Homo sapiens: one gene and its partners. The protein of the gene in region 1 purifies or fractionates together with the protein of each later gene. This does not show direct contact. Each region holds a gene or a part of one and is shown in the gene's direction. Other genes may lie near its edges. The genes, in order: AP3M1, FERMT2, DHX16, SERPINB5, LCP1, CCDC9 and PHF6.

Region 1 (3,500 bases):
ATATCAAGAAAATATTGAGGAATAATATTAGGACTATAGAGGGGTTTTTTTTGTTTGCTTGTTTTGTTTTGTTTTGTTTTGTTTTGTTTGAGACGGAGTCTCACTCTGTTCCCTAGGCTGGAGTGCAGTAGCATGATCTTGGCTCACCGCAACCTCCGCCTCCCGGGTTCAAGCAATCCTCCCGCCTCAGCCTCCCAAGTAGCTGGGACCACAGGTGTGCACCATCACACTCAGCTAATTTTTGTATTTTTAGTAGAGACAGGGTTTCACCATGTTGGCCAGGCTGGTCTTGAATTCCTGACCTCAAGTGATGCATCCGCCTCAGCCTCCCAAATTGCTGGGATTACAGGCATGGGCCACCATGCCCGGACTATAGAGGGTTTTTTCCCCCGCTCTGTTTTATATATGTTCAGCAGCTTAAGCAATGAATTATGCTACTCTAAGTTTATTCTTCAGAACAAAAAGTATTTAGCAGGCCTTTCTTTTTGCCTTCCATTGTGTGATATTTTGTGTGTATTTTGTCAGGACTACTTTGGTGAGTGTTCAGAGGCTGCAATTAAGGATAATGTGGTCATAGTATATGAACTCTTAGAAGAAATGTTAGACAATGGATTTCCACTGGCTACCGAATCTAACATTTTGAAAGAATTGATTAAACCACCAACAATTCTACGCTCTGTTGTCAACTCTATTACAGGTAAGATGAAAACATACTGTGCTAGTAACTGAGCAATTAAAACTTTGTAAACAACTCATTATTGCTCATGATCTGACATATTATTAAGGTAGTACAATTTGGCCATAATTAAAGTTACTGGTAAAGTTAAAATGGATGTACTATATATTTATTTTCATGGAAAGAGGCTAGACCTTAAGTGATAAAGAACTTTTGGTTATTACTCTTTTTTTTTTTCTAAAACACCACAACAATATTATTACCATTATTTAACACTAAATACTAAGACTGAATAAATTGTTCCAGTTATTCCTAAAGAAGCCAGTATATGAGCCCACTTAGAAGAGAATTTAGTCCATTTATAGACTGGCATTTTAATATTTAAAATAGCATTACATAACTGGTATGCTGCTACTCCACAATTACTAGAGAATAGAAAATTTAAGACGCTTAACCACACAGTACTACAATCTCCTCCAAGTCTTTGTTTTTATGCATTCAGAAGATGTATTAAGAAAAAATAGGAAATAGTTTACTTATGAGATCTCATGCATTGTGGGCCTGTACTTGTGTTGTAAGCTTCCAGCTGGGTTTAATTCTTGAGTGTAGCTAGAAATTAGGCACATCCAGATACCAATATTCTTTCGAAAGCATTAAAGTCTTTTAGACAAAGATTCCTATGAAATGTTATATGCCACTCCAACTCCACTGTCAACCATTGTAAACCCCTGTCCAGTGCCTTGACCTAAAAATGAGGTGAGAGAGGCCTATAAGAAAAAGATCATTCAGCAGCTCTTTATTCATCCTTTGTGTAAGGACGAATGTTAGGAGAAATTCAAAGAAAGATAAGATGGTGTGTCTGTACTCCTAAAACTTATACTCTGAATGGGACATTGGAAAAAAAATTAAGTAAATAACTGTATAAGACTTTAAAAAGCAATTCCATACTTCACAGATAAAGTAATAGCATTGGAAAATAAATACACATGATGTAACGTTAAATTGAAAAGTCAGCACAAAACTGAAAAAAATTATTCTTATATATAAATATTCACTCCGACAAAAAAGTATTTACAATGATTATACCCAGCTAAATACAGATTATATTTATTTTTGCTTTATACTTTCTAATTTTCCAAAATAAACATGTATTTTATAGTCAGAGAAAAGTTACTAAAATATATAATGCAAAACATAACAGATTCATTAGATAGTGTATTACAAAGTTCAAGAGAATGGTTCCATTAATGAAGTAATCCCTCCTGAACTGTGGTGGGTGGCCACCTTGGAAAATCAGTAGAATTCAGGAAGTGAGGAAGGAATAAGAGCATTCTCCATGGTGGAACTGTATGAGAAAAAAACACACATGAAAGAGAAAAACCTAAAGTTTTATTAATCCCTTTAGCAGAAGCAGAACTGTTTTTCACTTGAGAAGTTAGAGATCAAATTAAAAAGTAGAGAAAGTCCTTCAAAGCTAGGATAAATATTTAGCTTTTATCATAAAGCCAGTGAGCAAACATTGAACGTTTTTGAGCAGGAAGATAACATGATTATAGGTTGCAGGTAGGAACACCAATCATAAGTAGACTGCAAAATTGTAGATACAGTATGATTGCGACTATATTTTAAAGTGCAATTAAAAACCAAAATTATCAAAATAGAAAAAAATGCAACCTTCTGGTGGTGGAAATATTCAAAGAAATATACCAAAATGTTAATATTATATTAAAATGTTAATACCATAATATTAACAAAAATGTTAATGGTAGATATATTTTGTTAGTAAGAAGACAGGTGTTTTTCTTTAAACCACTTCTCTGAACTCTACCTTTTTGTTGTTGTTAAGTATGTAGTACTTTCGAATGGGAAATATAAATTAACCAAAATATTAAGTAAGTCACAGCTCAAAGATATGTGTTTTGGACAACCAGACTTATTTTTAGGCATGTGTCAGTTTACCAGGAAATGAGCTGGATACTGAATACTAGCTATATTGCAGCCGTATGGGTATGCTGACCTTAAAATAGGAAAAGGCCAGATTCCATTTACTCCACTGAGGCGTGCTTGGCAGCATCTCATGTAAAATAAAGTTGAATACTGAAGGGCCTAGTTATAACTCTGTATTCTCACTGGAGACATTTTATTGGCAGAAGGTTTTGAAACAACCAACCTCTTTTTTCATCAGTGGCAGAGATTCTGTTGTTGAGCCACTGGAATTAGATTAGATTACTGTTAACACACAGGAGGCAAAAGATAAGTAAATAAATTTAACCTGGTTTGGCAGGTAGACAGAGGGCCACATGGCCTATATTTCTTTTCTAGAAATTTGATCATGTTGGTATGGATATGTCTGACAATTCTAGTGACCATCCACAACTTCATTAAGAAAAATCCAAACATTGAAGAAGCAGCTTTTTTTTTCCTAGTAATAAATTTTCTCATGACTGTTTTATACATCAGCTTTGCCTTCTCCTTTTTTGGTTTCTAGGCAGTAGTAATGTTGGGGACACACTCCCCACCGGGCAGCTGTCCAACATACCATGGCGTCGGGCAGGGGTAAAGTACACAAACAATGAAGCCTATTTTGATGTTGTTGAAGAAATAGACGCAATTATAGATAAATCAGGTAATTGTGTGCATGTCATCTTATTTGGGGAAAAACAATTCATCTGACACAGATGAATAGAAAACTGAAGTCCTGGCCGGGCGCGGTGGCTCACGCCTGTAATCCCAGCCCTTTGGGAGGCCAAGGCAGGCGGAACATGAGGTCAGAGTTCGAGACCAGCCTGGCCAACATGGTGAAACTCTGTCTCTACTAAAGATA
Region 2 (3,500 bases), on another chromosome or scaffold:
TTATATCATAATATGTGTTATTATTGAAAAATAAGATGCTGTACTGCATACTTACTACCTGTTTTTCATGTTACTTATTAGGAAGTATATATTCAAGCCCAGGACTGTATAGTAAAACAATGACCCCCACTTATGATGCTCATGATGGAAGCCCCTTGTCACCAACTTCTGCTTGGTTTGGTGACAGTGCTTTGTCAGAAGGCAATCCTGGTATACTTGCTGTCAGTCAACCAATCACGTCACCAGAAATCTTGGCAAAAATGTTCAAGCCTCAAGCTCTTCTTGATAAAGCAAAAATCAACCAAGGGTAAGTTTTAAGATATAGATAAAATTGAATTTCTTCATCCAGCTAGAGGTAGAAATATTGTCTTCATTCTGTGTTGTTTTGTTCCACTGTTCTTAATTTGTCCAGATGGCTTGATTCCTCAAGATCTCTCATGGAACAAGATGTGAAGGAAAATGAGGCCTTGCTGCTCCGATTCAAGTATTACAGCTTTTTTGATTTGAATCCAAAGGTACCGAGGGTTTAAAGGGATCTTTTTTTTTTCCCCATTAATTTGTTTTGTTCACATGGATGTTTGTTTTTGGAAGTCGGTGGAATAAGGAATTATTTGTATATAGGAAATCTTGAATAATTATTAAAAACCCAAACTTTTAGGCAAAGGTATTTGTATTTTAAATAAGTCTATTTTAGTAGGTTGGAAGCATAACTAAACCTTTTTATTGTTGTTATTAAGATAATGAAACTTTTGGCTGATTTGGTTTTATCTTTTTTTTAATCTCTAAGCTCTTAGAGTGTCATGATTTGTATTTTAAAGGTACTCTTTTGGTACTATAGAACTGGCAAAGTTTAGGCCGGGTGCAGTGGCTCAACGCCTGTAATCTCAGCACTTTGAGAACCCAAGGTGGGCGGATCACATGGTCAGGAATTCAAGACCAGCCTGGCCAACATGGTGAAACCCCGTCTCTACTAAAAATACAAAAACTAGCCACGCATGGTGGCACACGCTGGTAATGCCAGCTACTTGGAAGGCTGAGGCAGGAGAATCACTTGAACCTGGAAGACGGAGCTTGCAGTGAGCCGAGATCATGCCACTGCATTCCGGCCTGGGCAACAGGGCAAGACTCCATCTCAAACAAACAAAAAAAAGAATTGGCAAAGTTCATTTTTAAAATATAAGACCTCTCTTCAACTATATTTAAATAAAAGTTTCAAAAAGGTTACCTTTTCAATTACTTTTAGATTACTAATTACGTGCCAAAAGATGTTGCTTCAAAAAAACGTTTTTTTCTTGAGACAGGGTCTCACTCTGTCCTCCAGGCTGGAATGCAGTGGTATGATCATGGCTCACTGTAACCTCAAAGTCCTGGACTCAAGCCATTCTCCCACGTCGCCTCCCAAGTAGCTGGGACTACAGGCTCACCCAGCCACACCTGGCTTTCTTATTTTCTGTAGAGACAGAGTCTCACTATTTCACCCAAGCTGGTCTCAAAACTCCTGGGCTGAAGCCATCCTCCTGCCTCAGCCTCCCAAAGTGCTGGGATTACCGGCCTGAGCCACCATGCTCAGCCAAATTTTTCTTAGGTCTACATTTTTTTCCTCTGTAACAGACAAACACTGTTACTTGTCTTTACTATGATTGGTATTATCTCTGCTACCATAGTACTTCACTTTTCTGGTAAGATTTAACTTTACCATAAATATCTGGAGCTTTTTTCCCCCGTAGAAAACACTTGGCACAGAGGTTTGAATCTTTTACTTCTCTTTCAGCCTGGGGAAAGAAACCTCTCTTGGCTACCCTCTCATCCTTTTCATGTTTAGAGTATAGTCTAGATTTTAATGTTATGTTTACATTCTTTTATTATATGCTTAAGTAATTCTTTATACAACAGTAAAATCTCTATAATAAAATTATAGAAAATAATTTTAATTCATTTTCAGGCCACATCATACCTACTTTTAGTAAAGCCAAAGCTACTTTGGGAATAGTTACATTTGTGAGGGGAATGGAGATGTATTTTGTCAACGTTCTAAAATACATGTTGAGCATTCCTAATTTGAAAATGTAGAATGCTCCAAAAGCTAAGACTTTTGAGGGCTGACATGATGCTGAAAGGATATGCTCATTTTGGATTTTTATGTTAGGGACACTCAACTGGTATAATGGAATATTCCATCATCTATAAAAATTCTAAATTCAACACAGAAGGTCTCAAGCATTCTGGATAAGGGATACTCAATCTGCAGTATTCTTAAGGCATTACTATTGACTTTTATTTATATAATTAAATGGATAATTGAATAACATATAAGTAAACATTTTCCACAAGTATATTTGCCCTGTATTTTGCATACTTAAAATAACTGCCGTTTCCAAGGACTTGCCACTTTATCTGGGTATGCTTCTCCACAGTGAACAAAATGTTCCCCAGAATAATTTGCTTTCTGATTACATGTTTGTATGGCAAGTTGCAGTAATAACACTGAAAAATAATCGGTAGTTCCGCCTTACTTTAATGTCATCAAATTAGATTTCTTATGTTAAAGGCTATAATGTCTAGTGGTTATTTCCCTGAAAAATAACATACAGAATCTACTTTTTAATACTGTACAATCAATTATTCTCTGTCATATTTTAATGTCATTTTTAATGGAAAATTAGATGTGGGCATATATAGGCATGTCTGACCCCATAGGTATCCTTCTAATAATACTTGATTGTAAATAAAAATTCTTGCTTGTAAATTAAGATCCCAGGAAAAAAAGCATTAAATTTTTCTTGTCAATTGAATATTCAGAGTTTGAAATTTTTCAATGGTAAAGGTTATATATTACAAAAGAACTATTTCTCTTGTTGCAGTATGATGCAATCAGAATCAATCAGCTTTACGAGCAGGCCAAATGGGCCATTCTCCTGGAAGAGATTGAATGCACAGAAGAAGAAATGATGATGTTTGCAGCCCTGCAGGTAGTTGAAAGGTCTAGTAAATGGGACTTATTCCGGTAAAGGGTAGGGAGGTATTTTTAAACAGTAAAGTGGAATAGTAATTCCAGTAACATTTCACGAGACAGAATTTTTGCCATGAAGAAAGTGAGTAGACACTTAGGAAAGCAAAACAAATACATTTTAGTTTGATTTTTTATCTTTTCCAAGAGTTCAGTGGTATACTTAAGTACTTTTCTCTATTTTGTAGGAAAAAAATTATCCTATTTTGTAGGAAAAAAATTATCCTCTCACCCCCAAATATAAATCTGCTCAAAGCTCCTCAGTTTTTCCTTGGAAAGAAAATATTTATTAAAAATCAGATTTCTGAAATCTAATCTGAAGCTTACCTGTATAATTTCATAAATAGCCAGGGATGATACAACACACTATAAAATGGGCTGTAGCAAAGCGATGCTTTTAGGTGATAAGATTTAGAGAGACTAGTGGAACCAAACCTTTTTCTACAATGATAATCCTTAAGTAGATAGCTAACATTGTCCTTAGATTAAACCA
Region 3 (3,380 bases), on another chromosome or scaffold:
CTGCGCCCGGCCCCTTGAGGAACTTACTTGTTCCTAAGGTTTCCAACTAGAACATTTAGATGTAGCTGTGGAGGGATGACCTTTAAATGCCATTCCTCTGCTGTCAGAGATCTTTTCCAAATGCACATAGTGAATGCACACTTTCTGCAGAAGCCTCAGAATTCCCCGGTGTTTCCTGCTCCTGCCTCCATGGATGTCCCTCCTTTGTGACTGTGTTTCATCTATGGCCCCTACTTCCTTGACCCCCAAGCTGCTGCCAGAATCTATCTGCTGGCTGCTTTGTAGCCATTATGCCAACCAGCCTTCCCCACATGAGGAAACATCCATCACACAGTGATCACTCCCCACTCCACCATATCTGTTCCTATGTGTCTTGCTTTGAACTCATGCTTTCCCCTTCCTGTCCCAGGTACAGCTGTTCAGAGGAGATCCTGACAGTGGCTGCCATGCTCTCTGTCAACAACTCCATCTTCTACCGACCAAAGGACAAGGTCGTCCATGCTGACAATGCCCGTGTCAACTTCTTTCTCCCTGGCGGTGACCACCTGGTTCTGCTAAATGTTTACACACAGGTCACTGGGCTTGGGTGAGTGGGAATGAGAGACACTGGGGGACTTTAGTCCTGCTGTATACTTAATTATCTCTCCTTTCTTTTTAACTGTCTTCCCAGTGGGCTGAGAGTGGTTACTCTTCCCAGTGGTGCTATGAGAACTTTGTACAGTTCAGATCGATGCGCCGAGCCCGGGATGTGCGGGAACAGCTGGAAGGGCTCTTGGAACGTGTGGAAGTTGGTCTCAGTTCCTGCCAGGGGGACTATATCCGTGTACGCAAGGTCAGCATTTCTTCAGCCTCCTGCTTTCCACCCCCAGTACCTTCCCAGGAGCAAGCTTCTCTGGGGGCATGCAGCATTTCCTCCAGCGTGAGAGCATGCCCTCTTCCCCTTGTGTATGACGTGTCCTCCCAGGGCCCTTTCTTCCCCAGACCACTGAAGGTTCATTCCTGGGAAGTTCTTCATGCATTCCTTACCTCTCTAGTTTTCCTGAAGCCTGAACTAAAAAGGTAGTGCATTCTTAGGGTCCCCAGATGTCTGCCTTTTCCATTGATTTTCTTTCCTGCCCGCTCCTTAGGCCATCACTGCTGGTTACTTTTACCACACGGCACGGTTGACTCGGAGTGGCTACCGCACAGTGAAACAGCAGCAGACAGTCTTCATTCATCCCAACTCCTCCCTCTTTGAGCAACAGCCACGCTGGCTGCTCTACCACGAACTTGTCTTGACCACCAAAGAGTTCATGAGACAGGTGAGGAGAACATCCTGTGCCCACGCAGGTGGAGACTATGTAGAGAGATGGTGTCCTGGCAAGCTAAGAACCCAGGTTCAAGTTGCTGGGACTGGTACAGAAAGAGGAAGGTAGGGTAAAATAGAAAGACATCCTTTGTTTTTTTTTGTTTTTTTTGAGACGGAGTCTCACTCTGTTGTCCAGGCTGGAGTGCAGTGGCGCAATCTAGCCTCACTGCAACCTCTGCCTCTGGGGTTCAAGAGATTCTCATGCCTCAGCCTCCCAAGTAGCTGAGATTACAGGCGCAAGCCTCCAGGCCTGGCTAATTTTTGTTATTTTTAGTAGAGATGAGGTTTCACCATGTTGGCCAGGCTGGTCTCAAATGCCTGCCTCGGCCTCCCAAAGTGCAGGGATTACAGGTGTGAGCCACCATGCCCAGCCCAAAGACATCCTTTCTAACAGGTGTGTCAGCATCTTCCAAGATCTGAGAACTAGACACTTATTCAATAAATATTTGAATGGCTACTGTATAGGTGCTGGGGCTATAATGAACAAAGCAGTCTCTGGTCTCACAGAGTATAGTCTTTATGTTCTAGGCTTTTCTTTTTTTTGAGAGTTCCGTGCTGTTGTAGCCCAGGCTGGAGTGCAGTGGCACCATCTCAGCTCATGCAACCTCCGCCTTCGGTTTCAAGTGATTCCCCTGCCTCAGCCTCCAGTGTAGCTGGGATTACAGGTGCCCACCACCACGCCCAGCTAATTTTATATTTTTAGTAGAGACTGGGTTTCACCATGTTGGCCAGGCTGATCTCGAACTCCTGACCTCATGATCCGCCTGCCACGGCCTCCCAAAGTGTTGGGATTACAGGTGTGAGCCACTGTGCCTGGCATGTTGTTCTAGACTTTTCTTGGGAATAGCTTATTTGGTATCTTGAATAACATACAGAGGTGTATCTGCCCTTTGGGTATATAATAATAGAGCCAGGCACCTTTACACCTAGCCCTGCAGTCAAAGAGGAAAGATAACTTTTGACCATACACATAAGGATCTAGGTTGGGGCTGGGCATAGTGGCTCATTTTTGTAAACCATCCCAGCACTTTGGGAGGCCAAGATCAGCCCAGGCAACATAGTGAGACCCCAACTATACAAAAAATTAATGGTGCACTGTGATGTGTGCCTGTAGTCTCAGCTACTTGGGAGGCTGAGGCAGTAGGACTGCTTTGAGCCATGATACGCCACTGCAGTCCAGCCTGGGCAATAGAGCAAGACTCTGTTTCAATTTAAGAAAAAAAAATAACAACAACAAAAGATCTATGTTGGAAAGAAGGGAACTCCATTGATCTTTTCTCTCTCCTAGGTACTGGAGATTGAGAGCAGTTGGCTTCTGGAGGTGGCTCCCCATTATTATAAGGCCAAGGAGCTAGAAGATCCCCATGCTAAGAAAATGCCCAAAAAAATAGGCAAAACACGAGAAGAGCTAGGGTAAGAGAAGGACGTAAACAGAACCTGACACCAGCTCCTTTTCCTTCTATACATTATTTAATACCTATTAAATAAAATTATTTTTGGAATAAAGCTTGTGGGAACATTTGGGATCTAGAGAAAGTGATATGTGAAATTCTATCTCATATAGTCAGTTAAACTTTATTATTTACAAGTTAAATTACACAGCAGCTTTACACAGCATGAGATGGAAAGGAAGGAAGGAGAGAAACGAGGAGAGGAAGCTGGCTCCTGAGATTCTTGGCTGCCTCCACCTCCTTCTCTTGGGCGTAGCAGTCTTCAGTGCTGCCTCCACTCCAAGGTCAAGGATCAGGGCTTGGAACACAGGTTTAAGTCAGGTTCTGGCTCTGACAGCCCCAGGGCCACCAGGGCTCCCACTAGCAGCTTCTTCACAGGCGTTGGAGGTGAGTGTGAAGGCATCAGCTGCAGGGAGAAAGGTTAATGCCAGTTGGGGGAGGCACACAAATGTTCTACCCTTTACCCCACCCAGCCCTACCTAGGACTCACTTTATCTAGACGATGGCGACAAATGAGGCCACTGGAATTCAGGTAGAAAGTGGAGTAGGCATCATAGGTCCTGGGGAATAGAGGGAGGCTT
Region 4 (3,500 bases), on another chromosome or scaffold:
GCTGGGCTGTGCTAAGCTTTACCATTGAACACAACGTTTCTGAAAAAAAAAAAAAAAGAGCCAAGCATACAGTGGAGCTCAAAGGGACTTAGAGATAATTTTAAAAAGACTTAGAGATAATTTTAAAGAACATTTTCCTTTTTAAAAATTATGCAATACTCCAAGCATTCAGAAAATGATAGAGAATAATAAAACGAACACCCATATACCGATCAATCATCTTTTTGAACTTAATATTTTGCCTTAATTATTTCAGATATTTTAAAGAAAAAATATAACAACAGTTGCATTGCTTTGTATGTATCCCTTCACTGCTCACTCCACTGTCCTGTTCCTCTTTCTTCCTCCCCAGTGGTAACCATTATTCTGAATTTACAATTTCTTCATTCTACTGACAAGAATACTGAGGCCTGGAGAGATTGAGTGATTTGCTCAAGGCCACAGAATCTGTTTATGTCACATTTGGGACTAAAAACCAAGGTTCTTATCTTCAATTTAGACTTTGTTAATTAGCTCAGATCTGAGTAGGTGGCAGTACAGTGGGGAGTGGGCAATTCAAACCAAAGACAAACAGAGAGGTCACAACAAATATTGTTTTGTTCTGCTATGTGCTAAGTTTGTTGTTGTTATTGTTCTGTTTTGTTTTGAGATGGAGTCTCGCTCTGTTGCCCAGGCTGGAGTGAGTGCAGTGGTATGATCTTGGCTCACACCAACTTCTGGCTCCCAGGCTCAAGCAATTCTCCTCCCTCAGTTTCCCAAGAAGCTGAGATTACAGGCGTGTGCCACCATGCCTGGCTGACTTTTGTATTTTTTAGTAGAGACAAGGTTTCACCATGTTGGCCAGGCTGGTCTTGAACTCCTGACCTCAAGTGGTCTCCCAAGGTGCAGGATTACAGGCATGAGGCACCGTGCCCAGCCAGTTTTTGAAATTAGGCATTTTATTAGGAAAAGCCGTATAAATGGTTATGTGGGTTTGCAGTAGAATTTACTTTCAAGTCAGCTCCACCAGGAATAGTTTAAAGATCTCATAGGCATCTGTAAAGAATAACAAACGTTGCCTATATTTACAGCCATACAGTCTTATTTTTAAGGTTTGATCTATGCAAATACAGTATTATATATACTTCATGTAATGTGTAACATGTAGATTATAAAGTATATGAATAACTTTTCAAAGGAACACAAACTCTTCACAGGACAGTCTCTGGTTTCAGTGCAATACAGTTTGGATCTGAGTGGATGATGAATTATAAGCCATAATAATCTGACACTGTGTCAAGAGCAAATTTGTGTATATATATATATGTACATATATATTTATGTGTTTGCCTATATATGTGTATATATGTGCATGTGTGTATATATGTATGGGGTATATATATATAGTATGTATATATAAGTGTGTATATATAGGTGTGTGTATATGTATATGTATGTATATGTATGTATGCATATATATGTATATGTGTATATATAGGTGTATGTATATATGTATGTGTATCTGTATATATATAGGTGTAGGTATATATGTATGTGTGTCTGTATATATACATGTGGGTATATATGTGTGTGTGTGTGCGCGCGTGTGTGTATATATATATATATATATATTTATGCATGTGTAAATTGAAAAGTAAGCAGTCCAAATTTTCCCTTTTACAGACAGACACCAAACCAGTGCAGATGATGAACATGGAGGCCACGTTCTGTATGGGAAACATTGACAGTATCAATTGTAAGATCATAGAGCTTCCTTTTCAAAATAAGCATCTCAGCATGTTCATCCTACTACCCAAGGATGTGGAGGATGAGTCCACAGGCTTGGAGAAGGTAAGGAGAAGGCAGGTGCTCTCCACAAAGGCACCCCCTGCCTTGGCAAAGAGTTGTGCCAACAGGTCTGTGTGGGCCGTGAGAGCTGGGCCGGTAGCCCTCCCTTATTGCCACTGGCTCAGTCACCTCCAAGGACCCATGGTTCTTTCTGGGGCCTTTCCTCCTTAATATTAACAACAGCCAAAATTTATTTGGCACTTACAGTGTTCTAGGGACTGTGCTAAGTTGCCTACGTGCATTATCTCATTTAATTCTTACAGCAGGCTGATGAGTTAGAGACTGTTACCACACTCTTGTTTACCAGTGAGGGAGCTGAGGCACAGAGGGGTGGGTAACTGGTTACATAATTAGTCAAGGGTGTGTGCAGGATCAGGATTTGGGCCCAGGTAGTTGGAGCCAGGTTCTTAACTGAAGGCTAGAGTGTCTCCCTCACCTCCTAGGCAGTTAAGGCACTACGTTGCTACGCACTGCCAGGTCCACTATCATGTGACCTGATGTCAAGCATCCTCTCTCTTGCTCTTTCTTTTTTTTTAAAATTAGTAGATGTTATTTTTAGAGTAGATCTATGCCTACAGAAAAATAAGCAGAAAGTACAAGGAGTTCCCATATACTCCCCTTCCCGTCCCAGGCCTACAGTTTCACCTGTTATTAGCATCTTGCATTAGTTTGGTATGTTTGTTACAATTGATGAGCCAATACTGACATATTACTATTATTATTATTATTATTATTATTATTGTTTTAGAGACAGGGTCTTGCTCCATTGCCCAGGCTGGAGTGCAGTGGCATGATGGTAGCTCACTCTAACCTCAAACTCCTGGGCAGGCTGGAGTGCAGTGGCATGATGGTAGCTCACTCTAACCTCAAACTCCTGGGCTCAAGTGATCCTCCTGCCTCAGCCTCCCAAGTAGCTGGGACTAAAGGCACACAGCACTATGCCTGGCTTTTTTTTTTTTTGTAAAGGTGGGATCTCACTGTGTTGTCCAGGCTGGTCTTGAAATCCTGGCCTCAAGCAATCCTCAGCCTCAGCCTCCTGAAGTGCTAGGATTATAGGCATGAGCCACCACACCTGGCCTTCACAATTTACGTTACGGTTCACTCTTTGTGTTGTACATTTATGAGATTTTAATACGTACACATATATGCTTCAAAATTTTGAATTATGCAGATACTATTTTATAGTACACATTATATATAAGTATTTTATTTTATATGATAAGGGTTATTATATTATTTTATTTATATAGATTTTTAAGGCACAAAGTTTAAATAAGAGTAGCAGTTTTCTCTGCAGGTGAATGGAGTTTTAGCTTCCTCTCTGCTCCCTCACCTCTGCTTAGCTGGCTGAGGCCTGTTCTCCCTTTAGTCCCTCCCTGGCTTCCATTCTAGCTCCACCCCGCCTGGCCTCAACCCTTGGCCAGGAAGGAAGAAGGGGCTCTTTGAAGGCCTGGATCACTTGCTATATATCCACATGGGCCTCAGTGATTTGCTGACTTTCCAGGGGACCATCCAGTCTCCAGCTTGCTCCTTTGGTTGCCATTATGTTTTAGCCACCACTTTATTAACTGAATTATAATTCCTGTCCTTCTTCTTCTTTGGTGCATTACTCTCTCTGTTTTTTTTCTTTCCATTTTATGCTTTGATCTTTCAGCCATTATCCAGCTGTCTTG
Region 5 (2,378 bases), on another chromosome or scaffold:
TGACTGTGACCCTCCAGGGTCCCATTCGTGTTGTGTTTCTCAGGCTCTCCTTATTTTTCCTCTTTTCTCCCTTTTAGATATGCCATCTCTATGGCCCGAAAAATTGGAGCAAGAGTGTATGCCCTGCCAGAAGACCTGGTTGAAGTGAACCCCAAAATGGTCATGACCGTGTTTGCCTGCCTCATGGGGAAAGGAATGAAGAGGGTGTGAGGCCCAATGGGGCTGGGTGGGAGGCGGTGCACTCACTCCTGACTGCCCGGCACAGATGCTCCAGGGATGATTCAAGCCATTCCAAAGTTCAACTTGGTGACACTCTATAAGATTCCAAAAAGCACATATTAGTGCAGCCAAGTAGCCTCTCCTGTATTTAACAAAAAGTGCTTCATTCTTTGCAGGAGGCCCAACCTCCTATATATAGGTTTCTATTCTTGATTTATTTGCTTCTTCGAAAATCTAGAGGAAAAGAAAGAAGTTATTTTCCAGGTACCCTTCTCGCTTTTGCCATTAGCCAAGGATAGAAGCTGCAGTGGTATTAATTTTGATATAATCTTTCAAACCAGCTTCATGTGGCTTCCCTTTTCTTTGTTCAAGATGAGGGCCAGGAGGGGAAACATCACACCTGCCCTAAACCCTGTTCCTGGAGGTCAGCATTTGATCTGTTGCAAGCCCCTCTTTCTGTCCCCTCTTCCTACCCTGCCTCCCTTGACTTTGCTCCTCACACTTTTGGAACCATGCCTTCCGGGGGGGCCCATCTCTTCTGGCCGTCCTTGTCTCTGGGCCACTTGGAGTGTGTGATAAATCAGTCAAGCTGTTGAAGTCTCAGGAGTCTCTGGTAGCCTGCAGAAGTAAGCCTCATCATCAGAGCCTTTCCTCAAAACTGGAGTCCCAAATGTCATCAGGTTTTGTTTTTTTTCAGCCACTAAGAACCCCTCTGCTTTTAACTCTAGAATTTGGGCTTGGACCAGATCTAACATCTTGAATACTCTGCCCTCTAGAGCCTTCAGCCTTAATGGAAGGTTGGATCCAAGGAGGGTGTAATGGAGCATCAAGCCACTCGGCGGCAGCATGGAGCTATAACTAAGCATCCTTTAGGGTTCTGCCTCTCCAGGCATTTAGCCCTCACATTAGATCTAGTTACTGTGGTATGGCTAATACCTGTCAACATTTGGAGGCAATCCTACCTTGCTTTTGCTTCTAGAGCTTAGCATATCTGATTGTTGTCAGGCCATATTATCAATGTTTACTTTTTTGGTACTATAAAAGCTTTCTGCCACCCCTAAACTCCAGGGGGGACAATATGTGCCAATCAATAGCACCCCTACTCACATACACACACACCTAGCCAGCTGTCAAGGGCAGAATGAATCTATGCTGGATAAGAAATGGTGGAACTGCGTTATGAAGAGCTAATTTACTGGACAAAGAATTCCAAAGCAAAACCAGAACAGTATGAATTTGAGCAGGTCTCATAGGTTGAGCAATTTCCCCCTAAACCAACTGAAGGCTAAAAAGCAACAGGCCATTGTGAACCAATGCAAGACGCCCTCTATCATGGTGAAAAGCTCCATCAATGAGGTATCTTCTTTAGTGGTGGTATGTAATGGAACTTAGCCATTTTTCAAAGCAATTGAAATGCATTGCTCTGGATCTGTTCCTTGGCAGTGGACTCAGAAAGCCAACATGTGGCTCCTCCCAGCCCATAACCAGTATTTTTGCTGCTTCTGAATACAAATTGGTTGGTTTTGACTTCAGATTGAACTTACTGTAGCCTCAGATGATTTCCCCCCTCCGCCTCCAGGAAGAAAGAATGTTACTGCCTTAATAAAAAATGAAAAGAGAATGATGCTCAAAATCTTTCCAAATAAAATGTTCCCTATATTAGGTGTCTCTGGATGTTTCATTTTGAAAGTTTGCTGACAGTGTGCTATAAATCGTTCATTCATTCATTCCTCCAACACGTTCGAGTGCCTAGTATGTGCAAGGCACAGTGCAAGGTTTTAGGAATGTGCCTATGAACTAAACAGGCACTGTGCTCAGCTGATGCCTGTCTTAGGAAAGACGGAAGTTAAACAATTAAAATAACAGATGTGACGAGTGATAAAAAGAAGGGCAGGGTGAGACATGAGTTTATGACAGGAAACAGTCTGAGGAGAAATAGTTTAGCTAAAAACTGAAGAATAAATTTCCGTTAGGCAAAGCAGGGAATAAAATTAAAGCTGAGAGCCAAACTCAGAAATACACTGAACTTGTAGGAGTGAAGAGGTGTGATACCTTTCCTCACCTATCATAAGAGTCACGGCCAATACTATGACAAAAGATGGGTAACAAGAGAAAAGGGTAACATATTTCTTTCATCAAAGTTTTACATGACATGGGAG
Region 6 (2,964 bases), on another chromosome or scaffold:
ATCCTGAGCAAGTGGATGTGCCTCGGGGCTTAGGGGCGGGGTAGGGTGCGGGACATCACCCTGACTCCCTGTGGGCTGGGGGGCAGGGCCGCCGAGCTGGCCTGGGCAGTGCTGGAGACATGACGTTGTCCATGACGGGCCGGGAGCGGTCGGAGTACCTGCGCTGGAAGCAGGAGAGGGAGAAGATCGACCAGGAGCGGCTGCAGAGGCACCGCAAGCCCACTGGCCAGTGGAGGCGCGAGTGGGATGCCGAGAAGACCGATGGGATGTGAGTCTCCTCCCCGCTCCTCTCCCCATGTGGCACGTTGACCTTGGCCCTGACTTCTAAGTCCTATGCCTCTCTCTGGTTTTTCCTGCTGTGTATGAGTGAGTGACTGCCAAGTATCCTGAGATGCCATGGACCAGCTGCTGGAGCTCAGCGGCACGTGAGAGCATTTCTGGTTTTCTTTTTTTTTTTTGAGACGGAGTCTCGCTCTGTCGCCCAGGCTGGAGTGCAGTGGCGTGATCTCGGCTCACCGCAAGCTCCGCCTCCCAGGTTCACACCACTCTCCTGCCTCAGCCTCCCGAATAGCTGGGACTACAGGCGTCCGCCACCACGTCCAACTAATTTTTTGTATTTTTAGTAGAGACAGGGTTTCACCGTGTTAGCCAGGATGGTCTCAATCTCCTGTCCTTGTGATCTGCCTGCCTTGGCCTCCCAAAGTGCTGAGATTACAGGCGTGAGCCACCGCGCGCGGCCGAGCATTTCTGGTTTTCTTTTTGTTTTTGGAGACAGAGTCTAGCTCTGTCGCCCAGGCTGGATGGAGTGCAGTGGGAGGATCTCAGCTCACTGCAACCTCCGCCTCCCGTGTTCAAGCAATTCTCCTGCCTCCGCCTCCTGAGCAGCTGGGGTGAGAGGATTTCTTCTGTGTTCATGGGTATGCTGGGCTGAGCTGATCCAGGCTGGACGCTAAGCTGTGGGTCCCGCTGGGCTTGGCTTCTTGCAGCAGGGTGAATTCACTCTGCGCCAGGGTGTTCATTCTGCTGTCCAGGCTGAGGGCAGCAGCTGCCTGGGGAGCGCTTGCCCTGACATGGGCAGATGCACAAGCAGGCACACTTCCCAGTTGTGTTCGCCAGCACACCCCGCCTCACTGGGGCGGGGAAATAAGCTCTGCCCCCTCCAGTGGATAGGAACACCGGTGGCGGCAGGGACATCAGTTCCAACGCAGGGAGGGCATGAAGGCTGTTTAACAGCGATTAGACCTTTGCATCCTCCTGCCAGCCTCTGACCTGTCCCCAGCAACTCAGATCCCTGAATGTCTCCATGCCTCACCGTCACCTTTTTTTTTTTACTTTTTTTTTGAGACGGAGTCTCGCACTGTTGCCGGGGCTGGAGTGCAGTGATGTGATCTCGGCTCACTGCAACCTCCGCCTCCTGGGTTCAAGCGATTTTCCTGCCTCAGCCTCCTGAGTAGCTGGGATTACAGGCACGTGCCACCACATCCAGCTAATTTTTTGTAATTTTAGTAGAGGTGGGGTTTCACCATGTTGGCCTGGCTGGTCTTGAACTCCTGACCTCATGATTCACCCACCTCAGCCTCCCAAAGTGCTGAGATTACAGGTGTGAGCCACCGCGCCCGGCACCACCACCTTCTTAACCCAGTGGCATTGTTAACCTCAAGTTTGACTTTGTCCCCCGATTCAGTCAGACTTAAAGCAAAGCCCTCATTGCATCATCGTCATGGGGACCAACTTCCATAACCAAGAAGGAGAAGGTTCTGGAAGAGCCGATAAATAGCAGTATTTAAAGATCAGCAACTTTAGGTTTTACCTCATCCCCCATTCTTTCCTGTGTTGAAAGTTTTCATTCACCTATAACTTGTTTTTTGGCTTTGGCTAAGGAGGATTTTGTCTGTTTGCCCAGTGGTCGGGAAGCATTTTGTTGTGGATTGTGAACCAAGCCTGTGCGAGTGTGAGAAATAATTTGCACAGATACTATAGCTGATCTTCCTAAGGAGGAGGCAGCTGGGCTTTTGGGGAGATGTTCTCAGCATTCACAATGAGAAAGTATTTGTTTTTCTTATGTGTCCTAAAAGCAGTTTGCAACAAGTCTGATGAATAATGTTTGTGTGGGCCGGGTGCAGTGGCTCACGTCTGTAATCCCAGCACTTTGGGAGGCTGAGGCAGGTGGATCACGAGGTCAGGAGATCAAAACCATCCTGGCTAACACGGTGAAACCCCGTCTCTACTAAAAATACAAAAAATTAGCCGGGTGTGGTGGTGGGCGCCCTGTAGTCCCAGCTACTCGGGAGGCTGAGGCAGGAGAATGGTGTGAACCTGGGAGGTGGAGCTTGCAGTGAGCCGAGATCTCACCACTGCATTCCAGCCTGGGCGACAGAGAGAGACTCCGTTTCAAAAAATAATAATAATAATAATAATAATGTGTGTCTGGGCCAGGCGTGGTGGCTCATGCTTGTAATCCCCACAATCCCAGCACTTTAGGAGGCCAAGGCTGGAGGACTGCTTGAACCCAGGAGGTTTGCAGTGAGCTGTTATGATGCCACTGCACTCCAGCCTGGACCACAGAGCAAGACCCTATCTCTAAGAAAAAAAAATGCATGGTGTCTTGCTTTCATCAGCATATATTTGAGTCCTCCTCTATGTCATGGAAGGTTCTAGGTGATACAGCAGCAAACAAAACATTTCTGCCTTTTTGGAACTAAGAGTGTAGTGGGCAAGGTGGGTAATTAAGAGGTCTAATGTTAGGCCCAGAAGGATAATGATGCAGAGTAAGCAGCCAGGGTGGAGGTTAGAATTTTAGACTTAGATAATCTGTGTAATAATATTATCTTTTTTTTTTTGTTTTTTTGAGACTGAGTCTTGCTGTGTTGCCCAGGCTAGAGTGCAGTGGTGTGATTTCAGCTCACTGCAACATCGCCTCCTGGGTTCAAATAATTCTGATTCAGCCTCCCGAGTAGCTGAGAT
Region 7 (3,500 bases), on another chromosome or scaffold:
TAGTGAATTGGGTGAAGTGTACTGCTCGTTTTCTTAATTTGAAAAGTGAGTTTAATTTAGTTTGCTTACTAATTTTTGATTTCTTCATTTTTTATAGGGTCTATTGCCGAAAACACAAGAAAACTGCACATAACTCCGAAGGTACATCATTTAGCCACGTTTCAGCCACTTTTCAGTTTCAAGAAGAAATTTGAGTACAGATTAGTGAATTATACTATATTAATTTTAACCATAAGACATATCTCAACATTCAGTACATTTAGAAGAATTGAGAAAAGTGTTAGGATAAACTAATGTGCATAGTGAAAAAGATCTGAACTTCTTTTTTTTTTTTTTTCCTGAAACGAAGTCTTGCTCTGTCGCCCAGGCTGGAGTACAGTGGTGTGATCACAGCTTACTGCAACCTCTACCTTTCAGGTTCGAGCAATTTTCCTGCCTCAGCCTCCTGAGTAGCTGGGATTACAGACGTGCACTGCAATGCCCAGCTAATTTTTGTATTTTTAATAGAGATGGGGTTTCACTGTGTTGGCCAGGCTGGTCTTGAACTCTTGACCTCGTGATCCACCTGCCTCAGCCTCCCAAAGTGCTGGGATTACAGGCGTGAGCCATCGTGCCCGACCAAGATCTGAACTTTTAAGAAAACTTTTACCCCAAAGTCCTTGTAAAGTATATGCTGAAAATCTATCTTTAGTAAGAAATTATGCTGGTGGCTGCGTGTTTCATTTCTTTGTGTTTTTTTTTTTTTGTGAGACAGAGTCTCGCTGTGTTGCCCAGGCTGGAGTGCAGTGGCGTGATCTTGGCTCACTGCAAGCTCCGCCTCCCGGGTTCACATCATTCTCTGCCTCAGCCTCCCGAGTAGCTGGGACTACAGGTGCCCGCCACCACGCCTGGCTAATTTTTTGTATTTTTAGTAGAGATGGGGTTTCACCGTGTTAGCCAGGATGGTCTTGATCTCTTGACCTCGTGATCCGCCTGCCTTGGCCTCCCAAAGTGCTGGGATTACAGGCGTGAGCCACTGCGCCCGGCCTCGTTTCTTTTCTGTTTTCTTTTTCTTTTTTTTTTTTGAGACGGAATCTCGCTCTGTTGCCCAGAGTGCAGTGGCACAATCTCGGCTCACTGCAACCTCTGCCTCCTGGGTTCAAGCGATTCTCCTGCCTCGGCCTCCTGAGTAGCTGGGATTACAAGCACCCGCCACTACGCTTGGCTAATTTTTGTATGTTTAGTAGAGACGGGATTTCACCATGTTGGCCAGGCTGGTCTGGAACTCCTGACCTCAGGTGATCCACTCACCTCGGCCTCCCAAAGTGCTGGGATTACAGGCGTGAGCCACTGTGCTCGGCCAGCTGCGTGTTTCTTTAAGGATGATAAATGGGATCCTTGATACTGTCATATTATAAATGATGTGAGCTTGGTAATAGTAGTACATTTTGTGATCACCAGGCTTTCTGTTATATTTTTATTCACATCTGTAGTACTTTAAAAAATGCCAATGTGTTAATAAGTAACCAAATTTAAAATACAAACTTTAAAAATTATTTAATAGTTTGTTTCTACTTAAATTTATATAAAACCAGGTTAGTCATGTTTATATATAGTTAGCCAAGTTGAACTTGGTCTGTAAAAAGTATGCGAAAACTCTGATACTGAGTTCTGACTTGTTTCAAACCTTTTCAAACAGATGGTTTTGATACTTTTACTAGCAATATAAAATGGCTTAGATGTAATCTGCGATTGTTCTATCCCTTCATTTAGATTAGAGATCTTTAAAATTTTTGTTCGCTTTTGAGAATATGTTGCTTAGAATTATAATGGTTTGAGCACTGTTGTTTTAGGAAGCTGTTTCTTTTATGAAGATTTACCTAATTATTGGTATTCGCATGTTAAAATTGGTGGCCCTTTTTGATCTCTAGATCTTGGCTTTTATAATACAAAACAATATAGTTTCCACTTCTGGACTCGAGATTAGTCCAGATACTTTAAAGTGTTGGTTAAAAATACAGTCGTTAGCAAAATCTAGTCTTTAAGGTAAACATGCTGGATAAATAATAATTTTTTTGAGGTGATAAAATATGACGGAAAAAACCTTAGTAGTGCTTTTCTTCTGTTTTCTCCTCACTGAATTCTAGAATTGAATTGGAAAATCCTTTGTGAAAGATTGAGTACGCTTTTCCACCTTCCATTATTTCAGATTTTAACAGTGCATTTATTTCATTCTCTTTAAGACTGTAGTGGCCCTATATGGTTTTTTTCTTAATCTATTTTTAATTTTTGTGAGTACAGAGTAGGTGTGTATTTATGGGGTACATGAGATATTTTGATACAGGCACACAATGTGAAATAAGTACATCATGGAGAATGGGGTATCCATCCCTATTTCAAACAATCCAAGTTAAGCTGAGGATTGAGACTATGTTATGCTGTATGTTAAGCTGAGAATTGAGACTCATGATCTGATGAATACAAGTATGAGCACACTGAGACAGGATATTTGAGATAATTAAGAAGGATGATTAATATATACTGATTATGTAGATAGCTCCCATTTTATTCCCTGGATTTCTGAAGCTGACAGTACCATCTAGTGGTAGGGAGAAGTCACTGCAAACTATATAAAGTAGAATAATTTTGGCCATGTTTTAGCACTGTGACACTTAATAGAGATCTAAATTCATACTTTTCAAGACAACTTTTCTTTTACTGTAACTGGCAGCATTATTATAACTTCAGATTTGTGCTACAATTAATTTGAATTTGGGATTCGATGTGTACGTCTATAGAACAATGGGCGGGGGGCTTGTATCATTTTTATATATAGTGTGTTTATACTCATTGTGGACCTTGAAAGAATAATTTTATAATTTAAAGTATTAAAGCTTTATATTTATTGATTTCTGGCTTTTATCACATTGATCTAGCTCAAATTTAGTTGATTTTGAGTGCTTTGTCAGAAACAGAACTTCCAATTATTCCATTGTTCTAATGGGAAACATATGTTCTCCTTTACGATCATGGTTTATGATGGGAGGTTATAGGATTGTATTTCAGGGACTGTCTTTTAAGAATTGTACTGCACTAAAAAAAAAAAAAAAAGAATTGTACTGCACTAGTCTCCAGAACAAAGATGAATTAATATCTATGGTAATGTCTTGGTCATTTGCCATCTGTGGCTCAATACTTACTTTGCTAATACTTAATATGATAAATGCTATTAATATATAATTCATTCTGCCATGTTAGCTTTATATAAAATGAGCTGTTTTGAAATATTAAATTTGAGAATAATTGCATAATATAGCAATTCAATTTTCCCATCACAAATAAAATATTATTGAATATTAAATACCTAAAACCTATGTCATCAGTTTTGCTTCAGGAAAAAATGGACTGTGAATTTGAAAAGCAATTTTAAAAATCTATATGGAGTTTATAACTATCATTATGTCACTAGGTTATTAGAATGCCCGTCCCAGGAACTGTATGTATTTACCTGTTAGTGGTGA

Evidence for each region.
Region 2: the proteins of AP3M1 (region 1) and FERMT2 purify together in Homo sapiens (affinity purification with mass spectrometry; 2 studies listed by BioGRID and IntAct, with this or other methods). This does not show direct contact.
Region 3: the proteins of AP3M1 (region 1) and DHX16 purify together in Homo sapiens (affinity purification with mass spectrometry; one large-scale study listed by BioGRID and IntAct). This does not show direct contact.
Region 4: the proteins of AP3M1 (region 1) and SERPINB5 purify together in Homo sapiens (co-immunoprecipitation; one large-scale study listed by IntAct). This does not show direct contact.
Region 5: the proteins of AP3M1 (region 1) and LCP1 purify together in Homo sapiens (co-immunoprecipitation; one large-scale study listed by IntAct). This does not show direct contact.
Region 6: the proteins of AP3M1 (region 1) and CCDC9 purify together in Homo sapiens (affinity purification with mass spectrometry; one large-scale study listed by BioGRID and IntAct). This does not show direct contact.
Region 7: the proteins of AP3M1 (region 1) and PHF6 purify together in Homo sapiens (affinity purification with mass spectrometry; one large-scale study listed by BioGRID and IntAct). This does not show direct contact.

The regions. Positions count from the first base shown.
Region 1 is NC_000010.11:74,133,829-74,137,328, reverse strand, and holds part of AP3M1 (AP-3 complex subunit mu-1), read left to right. Parts: intron 1-525; coding exon 526-697; intron 698-3,164; coding exon 3,165-3,302; intron 3,303-3,500. UniProt on the Homo sapiens protein: Part of the AP-3 complex, an adaptor-related complex which is not clathrin-associated. The complex is associated with the Golgi region as well as more peripheral structures.
Region 2 is NC_000014.9:52,878,051-52,881,550, reverse strand, and holds part of FERMT2 (fermitin family homolog 2), read left to right. Parts: intron 1-81; coding exon 82-307; intron 308-412; coding exon 413-515; intron 516-2,861; coding exon 2,862-2,969; intron 2,970-3,500. UniProt on the Homo sapiens protein: Scaffolding protein that enhances integrin activation mediated by TLN1 and/or TLN2, but activates integrins only weakly by itself. Binds to membranes enriched in phosphoinositides.
Region 3 is NC_000006.12:30,652,627-30,656,006, reverse strand, and holds the end of DHX16 (pre-mRNA-splicing factor ATP-dependent RNA helicase DHX16), read left to right. Parts: intron 1-409; coding exon 410-572; intron 573-670; coding exon 671-832; intron 833-1,127; coding exon 1,128-1,301; intron 1,302-2,636; coding exon 2,637-2,765; 3' UTR 2,766-2,880; downstream 2,881-3,380. Other genes in the region: uncharacterized protein C6orf136, read right to left, coding at 3,092-3,205, 3,290-3,359. UniProt on the Homo sapiens protein: Required for pre-mRNA splicing as a component of the spliceosome. Contributes to pre-mRNA splicing after spliceosome formation and prior to the first transesterification reaction.
Region 4 is NC_000018.10:63,497,458-63,500,957, forward strand, and holds part of SERPINB5 (serpin B5), read left to right. Parts: exon of another isoform or gene 1-46; intron 47-1,662; coding exon 1,663-1,830; intron 1,831-3,500. UniProt on the Homo sapiens protein: Tumor suppressor. It blocks the growth, invasion, and metastatic properties of mammary tumors.
Region 5 is NC_000013.11:46,125,423-46,127,800, reverse strand, and holds the end of LCP1 (plastin-2), read left to right. Parts: intron 1-77; coding exon 78-210; 3' UTR 211-1,878; downstream 1,879-2,378.
Region 6 is NC_000019.10:47,266,525-47,269,488, forward strand, and holds part of CCDC9 (coiled-coil domain-containing protein 9), read left to right. Parts: intron 1-86; coding exon 87-268; intron 269-2,964. UniProt on the Homo sapiens protein: Probable component of the exon junction complex (EJC), a multiprotein complex that associates immediately upstream of the exon-exon junction on mRNAs and serves as a positional landmark for the intron exon structure of genes and directs post-transcriptional processes in the cytoplasm such as mRNA export, nonsense-mediated mRNA decay (NMD) or translation.
Region 7 is NC_000023.11:134,393,812-134,397,311, forward strand, and holds part of PHF6 (PHD finger protein 6), read left to right. Parts: intron 1-97; coding exon 98-141; intron 142-3,500.